Linked DNA regions of Homo sapiens. The protein of the gene in region 4 purifies or fractionates together with the protein of the main gene of each other region. This does not show direct contact. Each region holds a gene or a part of one and is shown on either strand. Other genes may lie near its edges.

The links.
Region 1: the proteins of CSNK2A3 (region 4) and MMP1 purify together in Homo sapiens (affinity purification with mass spectrometry, with the first as the bait; one large-scale study listed by BioGRID). This does not show direct contact.
Region 2: the proteins of CSNK2A3 (region 4) and EIF3M purify together in Homo sapiens (affinity purification with mass spectrometry, with the first as the bait; one large-scale study listed by BioGRID). This does not show direct contact.
Region 3: the proteins of CSNK2A3 (region 4) and F2RL3 purify together in Homo sapiens (affinity purification with mass spectrometry, with the first as the bait; one large-scale study listed by BioGRID). This does not show direct contact.

Annotation. Positions count from the first base shown.
Region 1 is NC_000011.10:102,789,419-102,792,289, forward strand, and holds the end of MMP1 (interstitial collagenase isoform 1 preproprotein), read right to left. Parts: intron 2,078-2,871; coding exon 1,915-2,077; intron 1,389-1,914; coding exon 1,285-1,388; intron 1,104-1,284; coding exon 994-1,103; 3' UTR 501-993; downstream 1-500. UniProt on the Homo sapiens protein: Cleaves collagens of types I, II, and III at one site in the helical domain. Also cleaves collagens of types VII and X.
Region 2 is NC_000011.10:32,597,331-32,600,830, reverse strand, and holds part of EIF3M (eukaryotic translation initiation factor 3 subunit M), read right to left. Parts: intron 143-3,500; coding exon 1-142. UniProt on the Homo sapiens protein: Component of the eukaryotic translation initiation factor 3 (eIF-3) complex, which is required for several steps in the initiation of protein synthesis.
Region 3 is NC_000019.10:16,887,807-16,891,798, forward strand, and holds the start of F2RL3 (proteinase-activated receptor 4 preproprotein), read left to right. Parts: upstream 1-1,192; 5' UTR 1,193-1,383; coding exon 1,384-1,492; intron 1,493-1,766; coding exon 1,767-2,815; 3' UTR 2,816-3,992. UniProt on the Homo sapiens protein: Receptor for activated thrombin or trypsin coupled to G proteins that stimulate phosphoinositide hydrolysis. May play a role in platelets activation.
Region 4 is NC_000011.10:11,351,442-11,354,741, forward strand, and holds CSNK2A3 (casein kinase II subunit alpha 3), read right to left. Parts: upstream 1,810-3,300; 5' UTR 1,679-1,809; coding exon 503-1,678; 3' UTR 501-502; downstream 1-500. UniProt on the Homo sapiens protein: Probable catalytic subunit of a constitutively active serine/threonine-protein kinase complex that phosphorylates a large number of substrates containing acidic residues C-terminal to the phosphorylated serine or threonine.

The sequences.
Region 1 (2,871 bases), about 91 Mb from region 4:
AACTCTCTCATGATGTACTTCTACCACAGGACAGAAGGAGTAGACTACTAGAGAAATTTCCACCAGCAATTAAATGTTCCAGTCTGAAAATGATATTTGTCACTTCTTCACTCAACCCTCTGGCTAGAAGTAGTCAGATGCCCCACTGCCCACCACCCAACTCTGCAAGGAGTTGGACTGTGGGAAAATGGAACCCTCCCATATGTTCAGAAGAGACAAAATGACATACACCTAGAACGCTCTACCATGATGTCACTGATTTTACCTAAAACCACTTTTGGAATCCATAAATGGGGCAAGGGAAATGGATTCCCCTCCCCCACCCCAGTTTATATGGTATAAATTCCATGTGAATAGAGAATAGTTGAGTTTTTTGTATATCCTCATTTCCCACATGAACATTTTTTATATTGTCTACTTCCCATTTCAAATTTGAAAAGCAGTCTCTGTAAGGGTGGCGTTGTCATCAGAAAGTAACAATAATAAATATAGAAAGTGTATAAAACAGTAGAAACAAGGTTGACTTTATTCCAAACATAAAACACTTATTTTGTGTTAGAAGAGTTATCCCTTGCCTATCCAGGGTGACACCAGTGACTGCACATGTGTTCTTGAGCTGCTTTTCCTCCGGCAAAGACTCATGTCTCCTGTCTCTTTCTGTCTTGAAAGGATATGTTTGTCACTGAAGCTGCTCTCTGGGATCAACGTCAGAGTTGCATACTCTGGAAAAGATCTTTGCAACTCTGGCCTATATGAATCCATAAGCCACAAACTTGACTTTTTGTACCCACCATTTGTGGAACTAAATTATATCAGTACAAAAAGGGCTACATTCTAAATAGTAAAAAAATATGCAAACTGAGGTATAAATAAGATTATATTCTGTGTATCAGTGACTCTAGAGGTTAAAAATGACTGAGAAAATAGACAGTTCTTCAGGAAAACACCTTCTTTGGACTCACACCATGTGTTTTCCATTCAAATTAGTAATGTTCAATTTTTCCTGCAGTTGAACCAGCTATTAGCTTTCTGGAGAGTCAAAATTCTCTTCGTTTTAGGATCAAATTTGTATTGTCTTGTTCCATGAAAGAAATAGAAAAATCCTAGAAACAAAACAAAAGAGACTTACTACATTATACAAGTAGTTTCTAGGTTTAACTTGAATTCTTGAGAAACCAATTCATCTGTGAGCACAGATATTTTTGGCATTTGCTGTTCCAACTAACAATAATGATGTTATTGCTACGGCAATGAAATGGAGGAAATACATGTATATTCACTTACCATCTTTCATGAAAACTGCATCAACTTTGTGGCCAATTCCAGGAAAGTCATGTGCTATCATTTTGGGATAACCTGGATCCATAGATCGTTTATATTCATCATACCTGGTCAGAAAAGAGTTAAGAGTGTCAGACCTTTTGCTAAACATGTGCACTCTGAAAATCATTACAGAAAATACACAATGAGGAATTTAACCAGAATATTTCATTTTATAGATCATTTGTGAAATGGGGAGTGGATGGGATAAGGTGGAATGTTGGGTGAACTAAAAGGCCTTTAAGGCCCCTCTGAAATCCAGCATCGAATTCTCCAGTAGGTTCTACGCTATGTCCTATCGAGGTAACATACTATGGAAGATAAGTAACTTTTGGCCAAAGTAGCTCCGTTAAGATGAATGTCCTCAATTCTACATCCTTTTAAAATTCATCCCCCTACATTCTCTGGATTCCCAGTGCAGGCATTGTGTGATGATTATTGGTCAATAGACTAAATAGATGATAGATTGGCACCAGCCATCTGAAGGAAAGGATGCCGGCCAAGGCAGTTTGAGACTCACTTTGAAATGGGCTATTCTAGAACTTTTTATGTAGAAAGAACTGAGGCCCTAACATTCTCTGCACTTAAACTTACCTCCAGTATTTGTTAGCAACAAAGAAGTAGGTTTTTCCAGTGTTTTCCTCAGAAAGAGCAGCATCGATATGCTTCACAGTTCTAGGGAAGCCAAAGGAGCTGTAGATGTCCTTGGGGTATCCGTGTAGCACATTCTGTCCCTGAACAGCCCAGTACTTATTCCCTGCCAATCAAGAAAGAGTGATAAAACACTTGCCTAAGACTTCAATAGGCAGTAAGTGAATTTTCAGCTAAGTTCTTAGTTTCACATGCTAGTGCAGTACCCTGGCTGCAGATTAGAATCATCTAGGGAGATTTTTGAAAATACTGATGCCAGGACCCTATCCCAGACCAATTAAATGTGTCTATCTTTGGAAGCTTCTTAGTTGATTCTAATCTGCAGCAAGCTTTGAGAATGACTTGTTTATGGAGTTGGGGGCTTCTTTCCACAGTCAGATGTTCAAATGACTAAAGAGTTAGTTATGCCACCTTGGTGATATAAACTTCGGTTCTCCAGGTTTGCTCATGGACTGTGGAAGTTCAAACCATTTGTATCATAAAGGGTGAAGTGCTGTAGTGACTCATAACCTGTAAGGGTTTGCAATCCTGGATTCAAATCACTGCATTTGACTAGAAGATAGTTCCAAATACTTGAATTAATGCTGTGTCCAGATTCCGTGTTTATACTCAGTAAGCCCCTCATCACATAAAGCTGGTCTCATATACTAAAGCCAAGATTTCTGTTACTGTACACACGTGCTATTTACCCCTCATGAAAAAGGAATTTGAAACTTTCTGTCTCTAACATCCATTTAATTTCATAATTTAAAGGCTAAAAATCCTGTTTCAAAGCGTTTGGCCCATCTGACCTGCATTTAATTCTTTGCCTTGAGTGTATGGCTGAGTCAAATGTCTTACTCATTGTACTACGTTAAACACACGTTTGCAAAAATATTGGTGCGTGGCATAGTGTCTCGA
Region 2 (3,500 bases), about 21 Mb from region 4:
TCAATAACAAATGCTTCAACATCATCAGCTCCAATCTGAAGTTCTTGCTGCATTGTGTCAAAAGAAATTTCCTTATTTTCTACTGCCATTCCCATAAAAGTAAGTAGTCTCATTTTTGCCATATTCTGTTCATGTAACAGGCCTAGAAAACAGAATAGTGAAGCCTGATGAGTGTTCATACTAATTAAAGACCTGCACAATTACATCTCATGTTAAGCTGTGGAAATTATTTTTACTTTTGTAATTGTGGAAATTATTGTTTGAGCACTTATATAGAACAATTTTGACAAAGCTTCTTATATTTGCAAACTATAAACTGACTCCACAGAGTATTAAAAACAATTTTTCTATAGTACCATAGGTGATAGATTCAAAGTTAAGAATCGGCCATAAAATGATTATTTTTAGACCCTAAAAGTTTTGCACATTTTACATTTTTAAATAGTTATACATTTTAGGAGATAAAATCTACAAAGTACATTTCATAAGAACAATTTCTATTTAGTTAAATTACCTAAGCTTATTTTTCACACTAATAGCTCTTCATTTAAACACAGAGGATTTCTTATCTACTTATTAGTTTTTTCTGTGTTACTATTACTGGTAAACCTGAAGTTTTAAAATACTTTCACAAACATTTTCAGTTATGAAAACATTCCATTTTGCTTCAGGTCACTATTTAAAAATCAAAACTACTTACAAACCAAAACTGTCAAAGTGTGTGTGTCATTTAACATTTATAGGCCAATACAGTTAGTACTAGATATAATTAAAGAATACCATTAAAAGTGATACTTGTTCTTTATAAGACAAAAGTAGAAAATTGCACAAATAATTCAAATTTTGCATTATAATTTCTAATGAAACATGCTGTTGTAATTATTCAAATAACAACAATGTGTTAGGCCTAGAAGAAAACTTAAGGAATTACCCAGTCCTGATCCTTTCACTTTAAAAACAAAACTGAGGAGCAAAGAGATTAAATGGGGACTTATAGTCAAAAAATAGCAGTGCTAGGCCTAGAATAGGTTCATTTCTAAAATAAAGGGCTAGAAATTTTAAAAATTAGGAATCCTAAATATATAACCTAGTCCTAAGTAGGAGCAGAATTCTAACATAATATCATATATACTTGTTTTGATGCTAACTTATTAATTATAAAACTAAGTTTCTAAAACTAATCTAGATTTACATGTTCCTTTTCTCTGAACTTTTGAACTATGTAAAATCAGCAAATGATCAATCAAGTGCCCTGTAATAAATTCAGAGCTTCAAGTCTGTATTGTTTAAAAAGTTCACTCTCTAAACACTCCATAAATAAATTTTAAATTTATAACATTCATATATTAGTGGAAGATTAGGGAAGCCCATTAACATAGGACATGATCATCTGTTAATTAGCTGTAATTATGATACAGGCTTCCTATTTGGCACAGATTCAACAAAAACATGATCACCATAACTCAAATGAATGAGGTATACAAGGAAGTATTGCTAACTGGGTTTAATGGAAATCTACAGGCGCCAAGAAATCAATTAGTGCACATTAACCCTAATTAACAATGCAAATTAGATGCCGATTAACTTTCTGAAGCAAAAGGTAGCAACTGGATAACACCAGATTACATGTGGACATGTTAGGGCAATTCAGTTGACACAAGATAATGCTACTGTTGGCCTAAGTTGTCAGTGTTAATAAAGGAAAATGTTCTGACAAACTGATTGCAACTTGTGGAATCTAGATAGTTGTCACTAGGCTTTCAGCTGTAATAAATGTTTAATTATAGAATTAAAATAAAAAATATACACATTAATATAAAGATGTTTTCTGAAAAGCATATAAACAAATTTCTAATAGAATACTGATTTGCATAGATGTTCAAGAAACGTAAGGCAAATGAAGGAATTTGAATTCTAGCTGGCACAATAAATTAGCAATGTTAACGAATTTTTTCTTATCAATGAATAAGTATTAAAGATTTTTTTCAAAAATTCCTTAACATTCTCAGTTCTATTGGCATGGACAGACAACTCTCTTTCAATATAAAGTGATAGAAACTTCTGAAATTTCTATTATTTTAAATACTCCTGAAATTAAATCTATTTTACTGCTTATCTTTTCTGCAGTTACAATCTTACCATAAATGAAAAAACTTATCAGAGGAATGAAGATTATTTCTAGGCTGAATTCCATAAAACCGTTATCTATTTTACATGTGAAAACTTGCATCTAAAAACACTTTAAATTGATGTTTAAAGTAACAAAGAACCAAACTTAAAACCCTTAGGACTCTTGTTCTGAAAAATCAAACTACTAAGGCAGTGAAGTATGAGTTAAAGACTTTGTAGGAAGCTGTGCTTTGTTTCATAAAACTAAAATACTACCATCAAAGAGGAAGTCACAGTGTACTGTGTCATATTTCAATTTTAAAGTTATAAAAAATCTAATTTTATGGAAACATTTATTCATTACTAATATGTCAAAACCTTAATGCAGTAATAAAAAAAGTGCATCATTGAGCAATTTCTGCATTGTCACTGACCCCTGTCTTAAAATGCTGCAATATAGAAAACCCAGTTTTAATGCATGCAATAGCTTATGAACCAGTGCTCCTTTGAAACAGTCAATTACACATCAATGGGGGAGTGTCAAAGTGTTAATTACTACTCCTTTTTCCTTGGTGCGTAAATAAAGAGGTTGCTGACATTAACATTCCATCACATAGCTTCATGCCACAAAACAAATTAACTGGGACAGAATGTGGTTTTCTGGGTCTAGTGCACCTGGCAAAGCTTTCTACACAAACACACTTACATCTACTTTATCTTGGTGTATTTCAAATGCCTTATTATGTTCAGAATAAGTCAATCTTCCCCAATTCCAATGGAGGCACACAATTTACAGGTGACAAGCATTAATGATTACCAAATTGAAGACTATCAAAATAGACCATACATTCATCTGTATCGTCAAGAACCAGGAAGACTAGTCTCAAAAACAAAAAAAAATTCAGTCTTAATATGGAAAATATAATCAATCTCTAATGTGTTTTGATTATTGCCTAGTAGGAGAACAAAGCACCTTAGTTTCACAGTTGACTCCAGTGTAAAGAAACTGGTAGTTTACAACATTTAAAACCTGTTCAACTGCAGATTTTCTGAGTTTTCTCTTTGTATTTTAGTATGTTAAAAACATGCTCCAGAAGGAAATTAAAATATTGAACATATGTAGGGTTTGCTCAATAAGGATGAATAAGATTTGATTCAATTTGACAAACATTTACTGAACTGATACGCTAGACAAGAAAATTCAAAGATAAAAATAATAAAGACTATGCTGTTTTCAACAAACGTAGTTAGAAAAGTCTTACTATCATGTAAAATTACATTTCCATTTCTAATTCCATCTTTCAGATCTAACTGGCAATACTATATACTTTTGTAATTTGTTAATGGCGGGGGTATCCAAGCATAAAATAGTATAGTAGGGGGGAAAAAAC
Region 3 (3,992 bases), on a different chromosome or scaffold from region 4:
TCCTGCTCCCAGACCCCCCCAAGCCCTGTCCCCCATCCCCTGTAGCCCAGCGCTGAGCACACTGGGGCCAGAACCACCCATACCAGACTCCCCCAGGGCACGACGGGTTGAGGCCTCTCTGAGGCAGGGAGGGACAACACTGAGGGGCCTTGTGCAGAAGAGGGAAGGGGTACCCCCCCGAGCTTCAGTTTCTTCATCTGCCCGATGAGCCCCCATCCAATGGTACCCAGGAGTGGGGATGTGCTGGGGCTAGAGGAGGGAGGCCCCCTGGAGGCTGGCTTGGGGACCCTTCAACCTGGCCACCTCACTCAGGGTCAGAGGTCAGAGCAGGCGAGCCACACACCCCGAAGTCCCCCCGGTCCTCGGCAGGTGCTGTCCCCAGCATCACTGTCTCCCCTACAGATGCCCGTGTGTCCCCTGGGCAAGAGTGAAGTGAGGCACTCATACAGGGGTGCCTTGTGAGTATGGGGTCAGCCGAGGATGCTGAGGGGCTCTCGAGGTTCAGCCAGAGTCCCTGACGCTGGGCTCGTGCTGCTCTGGGGGTCTGAAGGGACCCTCGCTATTACCCTCTGGGAGGCGCCCATCCTTGGTTTTTTTTTTTTTTTTTGCCGAGTCTCGCTCTGTTGCCCAGGCTGGAGTGCAGTGGCAAGATCTCGGCTCACTGCAACCTCCACCTCCTGGGTTCAAGCAATTCTCCCACCTCAGCCTCCTGAGTAGCTGGGACCACAGGCATCTGCCACCAAGCCCAGCTAATTTTTGTATTTTTATGAGAGATGGGGTTTCTCCATGTTGGTCAGGCCGGTCTCAAACTCCCAACCTCAGGTGATTTGCCTGCCTTGGCCTCCCAAAATGTTGGGATTACAGCCGTGAGCCACCGTGCCTGGCCTAGCAGGGCTCTTCTTATCCTGCTCACCAGAGATAGGAAGTCGGGGGGTGACTTCAGGAAAGGCCCAGAGCCCGTGATGGGCGTGGGGATTGGGGTGAGGACAGGGCTGTCGTGAGAACAGTGGCTGCAGATGTGAGCGGCTGGCAGGAAGTGGCCACTTGAACCGCAGATGCTTCCTGGGCTGGTCAGGGACCGGGGGTGCTGGCTGCAGCTGGGACCCCCCCCCCTGCATCTTGCTGGCCTGGCACCTGGGTCCCTGGGAGGCGCCACACTGGATATAGCCACGTGGGGCAGCCCGGTCTCCATAACCCACACTCCAGTCCTCCCACGGGCTGGCTGGCAAGCGGCCCTGGTGGGTCTGCGGGGGCAGGGGCAGCCTTCCTGGTTTATCTCTACCGGCGCGATCTGCTCGTCCGCCTCGGCTCCAGAAGCTGGGGCTCAGGGTCCGGCGAGGCAGGAAGCCTGAGGCCACAGCCCAGAGCAGCCTGAGTGCAGTCATGTGGGGGCGACTGCTCCTGTGGCCCCTGGTGCTGGGGTTCAGCCTGTCTGGCGGCACCCAGACCCCCAGCGTCTACGACGAGAGCGGGAGCACCGGAGGTGGTGATGGTGAGTGGTCCTGGCTTTGGGGTGCAGAGATGGGGTTACATCAGAGATGGAGCTGGGGGCCCGGAGCTGGGGAGGGGGAGGCCGGGAAGTTGCGGGCTTCAGCCCAGCCCACTCTGTATCCCGTCTCTGACCCCATAGGGCTGGGCTATTCCCTTGAGTGTCATGTCCAGCTGTTTCCCACCAGGGCAGACCCCAGGCTCTGAGCACCTCCCTCCCTGCTGCTTCTCGTCACCTGCCGAGGCAGGGGCTGACTGAGGTCCCCTCTCTCTCCCAGACAGCACGCCCTCAATCCTGCCTGCCCCCCGCGGCTACCCAGGCCAAGTCTGTGCCAATGACAGTGACACCCTGGAGCTCCCGGACAGCTCACGGGCACTGCTTCTGGGCTGGGTGCCCACCAGGCTGGTGCCCGCCCTCTATGGGCTGGTCCTGGTGGTGGGGCTGCCGGCCAATGGGCTGGCGCTGTGGGTGCTGGCCACGCAGGCACCTCGGCTGCCCTCCACCATGCTGCTGATGAACCTCGCGGCTGCTGACCTCCTGCTGGCCCTGGCGCTGCCCCCGCGGATCGCCTACCACCTGCGTGGCCAGCGCTGGCCCTTCGGGGAGGCCGCCTGCCGCCTGGCCACGGCCGCACTCTATGGTCACATGTATGGCTCAGTGCTGCTGCTGGCCGCCGTCAGCCTGGATCGCTACCTGGCCCTGGTGCACCCGCTGCGGGCCCGCGCCCTGCGTGGCCGGCGCCTGGCCCTTGGACTCTGCATGGCTGCTTGGCTCATGGCGGCCGCCCTGGCACTGCCCCTGACACTGCAGCGGCAGACCTTCCGGCTGGCGCGCTCCGATCGCGTGCTCTGCCATGACGCGCTGCCCCTGGACGCACAGGCCTCCCACTGGCAACCGGCCTTCACCTGCCTGGCGCTGTTGGGCTGTTTCCTGCCCCTGCTGGCCATGCTGCTGTGCTACGGGGCCACCCTGCACACGCTGGCGGCCAGCGGCCGGCGCTACGGCCACGCGCTGAGGCTGACCGCAGTGGTGCTGGCCTCCGCCGTGGCCTTCTTCGTGCCCAGCAACCTGCTGCTGCTGCTGCATTACTCGGACCCGAGCCCCAGCGCCTGGGGCAACCTCTATGGTGCCTACGTGCCCAGCCTGGCGCTGAGCACCCTCAACAGCTGCGTGGATCCCTTCATCTACTACTACGTGTCGGCCGAGTTCAGGGACAAGGTGCGGGCAGGGCTCTTCCAACGGTCGCCGGGGGACACCGTGGCCTCCAAGGCCTCTGCGGAAGGGGGCAGCCGGGGCATGGGCACCCACTCCTCTTTGCTCCAGTGACACAAAGTGGGGAAGGCTGTACTGGGTCGAACAGGGTCCCTTCCCCCACTTCACGTCCTTCCTGGGACCTCAGAATGTGACCTTATTTGGAAATAGGGTTGTTACAACTGTCACTAGCGGAGGTCACTTTGGAGAAGGGTGGGCCTTACATCCAGTGTGGGTGGTGTCCTCATAAGATAAGGAGAGGCCAGGCCTGGTGGCTCACGCCTGTAATCCCAGCACTTTAAGAGGCCAAGGCGGATGGATCACTTGAGCCCAGGAGTTCAACACCAGCCTGAGCAACATGGTAAAACCCCATCTCTACCAAAAATACAAAAATTAGCTGGGCTTGGTGGCTGGCGCCTGTAATCCCAGCTACTCAGGAGACTGAGGCAGAAGGATCGCTTGAACCTGGGAGGCAGAGGTTGCAGTGAGCCGAGATTGCGCCACTGGACTCCAGCCTGCGTGACAGAGAGCCTGTCTCTAAATTAATTAATTAATTAATTTAATTCAATTTTAAAAAGACGAAAAGTGACGGCCAGGTGCAGTGGCTCACGCCTATAATCTCAGCACTCTGGGAGGCCAAGATGGAGGATTGCTTGAAGCCAGGAGTTTGGGACCAGCCTGGGCAACATAGGGGGATCCCATCTCTACACACAAAAAAATTTTTTAATGAACCAGGCATTGTGGCATGCGCCTATAGTCCCAGCCACTCAAGAGGCACAGGCGGGAGGATCACTTGAGCCTGGGAGGTTGTGGTTGCAGTGAGCTATGATTGTACCACTGCACTCCAGCCTGGGCAACAGAGCAAGACCTTGTCTCAAAAATAAACAAACTAAAATTAAAAAAAGAAGACGAGAGATAGTGGGTGTGGTGGCTCACACCTGCAATCCCAGCACTTTGGAAGGCCGAGGTGGGCAGATCATCTGAGGCCAGGAGTTCAAGACCAGCCTGGCTAACATGGTGAAATCCTATCTCTACCAAAAATACAAAAATTAGCCAGGCGTGGTGGTGGGCACCTGTACTGGGGAGGTGCCCACCCAGCTACTGGGGAGGCTGAGTCAGGAGAATCGCTTGAACCTGGGAGGCGGAGGTTGCGGTCAGCTGAGATGGTGCCACTGCACTCCAGCCTGGGCGAAAGAGCGACTCTGTCTCCAAAAAAAAGAGAAGAGGAGAGGACACAGAGACACACAGAGAA
Region 4 (3,300 bases):
GCAGCCAGACTCTTCCAACCCTTGTAAGGGGACACAAAATCTAGAAGGATCTGACCCTCACAGCTTCCCGATGCACAAGGCTGGGAAGGTAAGCTAGTTCAAGTCCAGGCATATCTATGGAACCAAAACCCTATAGAAGCCCCAAACTCAGAGACAGAAGTATTAGCAAGTTCCAAATCAGGGTCCCATTGACACCTGCGCTATCTACTGTAATCACTTCTTTGTTTTGAAATAGGATCTCTGGCCCCCATTACTGTCACTGGTGCTGCCAGAGAATGACAATGAGCTTAAATGTCATAGGGATTTGGGGAGCAATTTTCTTTTTTTTTTTTTTCAGCCTATTATAATTTTTTTTTATGACTGAACTACTATAAATCCACAAGCAACGGTTCAGACACGTTGCTTCTGAAGTGTTTCACCCCTCCCCGCCAGGCGCAAGCTGCATCAAGGAGGGGGTGGACTCCCCCACCTCTGCTCAGGCATCAGGAGACAGATAGGGCCGTTACTGCTGAGCGCCAGTGGCAGCTGGAACAGGCATCCCAAGGGGGTTGGCAGCAGCAATCACTGGTGAGCCTGCCAGAGGTCCAAGGGGTGAAGGAGTTGGCACTGAAGAAATCCCTGACATCACATTGGCGCTGCTGACGGGCGTACTGCCCCCTGGCATGCTAGATGAACCCATTCGAGCCTGGTCCTTCACAACAGTGTAGAAATAGGGGTGCTCCATGGCCTCTCTTGCAGTAAGCCGTGACTGGTGGTCATATCGCAGCAGTTTGTCCAGGAAATCCAAGGCCTCAGGGCTGACAAGGTGCTGATTTTCACTGTGGACAAAGCGTTCCCATCGCTTTCGAGAGTGTCTGCCCAAGATATCATTGAAACGTGGATCTAATTCAATGTTGTATTTGTCAATATAGCCATATAAATCTTCTGTCCCCAGAAACTTGGCTATCCTCACCAACTGATCATAATTGTCACGTCCATGGAAAAATGGCTCCTTCCGAAAGATCATACTTGCCAGCATACAACCCAATCTCCACATATCCAAACTATAATCGTACATCTGATAGTCTACAAGTAGCTCAGGACCTTTGAAGTATCGGGAAGCAACTCGGACATTATATTCTTGGCCAGGATGATAAAACTCAGCCAAACCCCAGTCTATTAGTCGTAGCTTTCTGTGCTCATGATCAATCATGACATTATGGGGCTTGACATCTCTGTGCATAATTCCCATGCTGTGACAATAATCCAGGGCCTTCAGAATCTCATACATGTAAAATCGAATATCATAGTCTGTTAACGTCTGGTACAATTGCTTGAAGTCTGTGTTGTTTACGTGTTCAAAAACCAAGGCGGGGGTTCGTGACACAGGGTCTTTTACAATGTCTGCCAGTGTGATGATGTTGGGACCTCCTCTCAAATTCTCCAAAATCTTTATTTCACGCTTAATTTTCTTCTTTTTTACTGGCTTGAGAATTTTAACAACAACTTTTTCATTATTTGTGATGTTGATGGCTTCAAATACTTCACTGTATTTACCTCGGCCTAATTTTCGAACCAGCTGGTAGTCATCTTGATTTCCCCATTCCACCACATGTGACTCGTAATCCCAGTATTCTCGAGGTCTGTGTGTATTAACATCTGTGTAAACTCTGGCCCTGCTTGGCACGGGTCCCGACATGTCAGACAGGTTGGCGGACAAAGCTGGACTTGATGTTTGGAGATCTGGCAGTCACTGTGTTCAGAAGCAGCTTGGGGGTAAGACCTTGTTTCAGACCTGTTTTCTTCACACTGTGGTGGAAGCGGCAGCGGCTGTGGCCGCTCTCCCTTCTGCTCACACAGACAATATGGCGGCGATGGAGTGGGGAGCAATTTTCTAAAATCCAAATAAAAACCTTCCCATCTCTAATCTGAGAGTCATTTTTATCAGCTAACTGGGCTCATCTATTTACTCAGCATATTCAGAGCCCTTTTTGGGGGTTAAGTCCCTTTCAATTGCTGTGAGGCACCGTCTCCTTGTGGACATGCTTGTGCTATCCAGCTGCTATTCAAAGCACATCTCCTGGACCATGTTTAATTTATACTTTCCTATATGAAGATGAACCACTTACTCACTTAAAGTATTTCTTTTTTTATGTCTCTAATCAGTGGCTGTTTCTTTCCTCTCTCTGAAGCTTAATCGAATCAGAAACAAATCCCACACATATGAATGGCTCATTAGCATGTCCCAGTCAGATTCAAATTGGCCGTCCATACCAGATGCCCCCAAAAGGATAACACTGGCCCAAAGAAGGACTCTTTAAACGAGTGTCCAAAGGGTGTTGCCATGATAAGCCAGGAGGGTTCTTTCTGAAATCCAGGGTAGATACACTCTGTCATTCCCAGCACCATAGAGCCAACTGATGGCAGGTAATGGATGTGTCATTGAGATGGGGTTGGTGGGAGGCAATGTGGCCAAGCCTGGGGAGCAGACATCAGAGGAATGTCTGGTGTCTATGTGTCTGGCTCAAGCATCATCCTCACACTTGGCTCAGTGGGGCCCTTTTATCAAATGATACAAATGAGGCTGAGATGCTGAACATTCTCTCGCTCAGAAATGATATTTGTTCTAAAGAGCTTCCCCTCTTAATCAAATGAAACTCAGATTATAAACACTGGTATGCTACATCTTCTCTTAAAGGATTTGCTCTTTTCATAGACATCAGAATGAATCGTCAGCATGGGCATCATCACTGGTGTCATCTCTGAAAGTCACCGATAGCAAACTCTCATTTAATACAGATTTACAAAAGAGATCAGCATACTGCAATAGAGTAGAACTGAAGGGAACCTAACCAGGACCTCCCTTCATTTCCCAGGTGAGCAAACTAAGGTTCAGGGTCACAGGATAATTTAGAAGCACAGTAAGATATGGATCCAAGAGCCTGCCTTTTGGAAGACAGGAAGTCATTATGGTTCAGAGCATAGCCTCTGGGGCCAAACAGTCTTGGTGTCAAGTCCTACATTTCCCATTTGCTGAACTGGTGACTTTAGGCAATTCACTTCACCTTCCAACACTCAGTTTCCTTGTCTATGAAATGGAGATAAAAGTGATAAATTCCAAAGATAGTTGCTGTGAGAATTAAATGAAGTAATACACAGAGACAGTTTATTTCATCACCTGGAAGAAGTTTAGAGGCCCCTAAGTATCAGCTATAATTATTATCACTATAATATTCCACTGATGATAAGATTCACTATTGCTATACCACAGCTTTTCGGGACAGGGGAAAACACACTACATTCCTCTGAGCTCAAGATTTA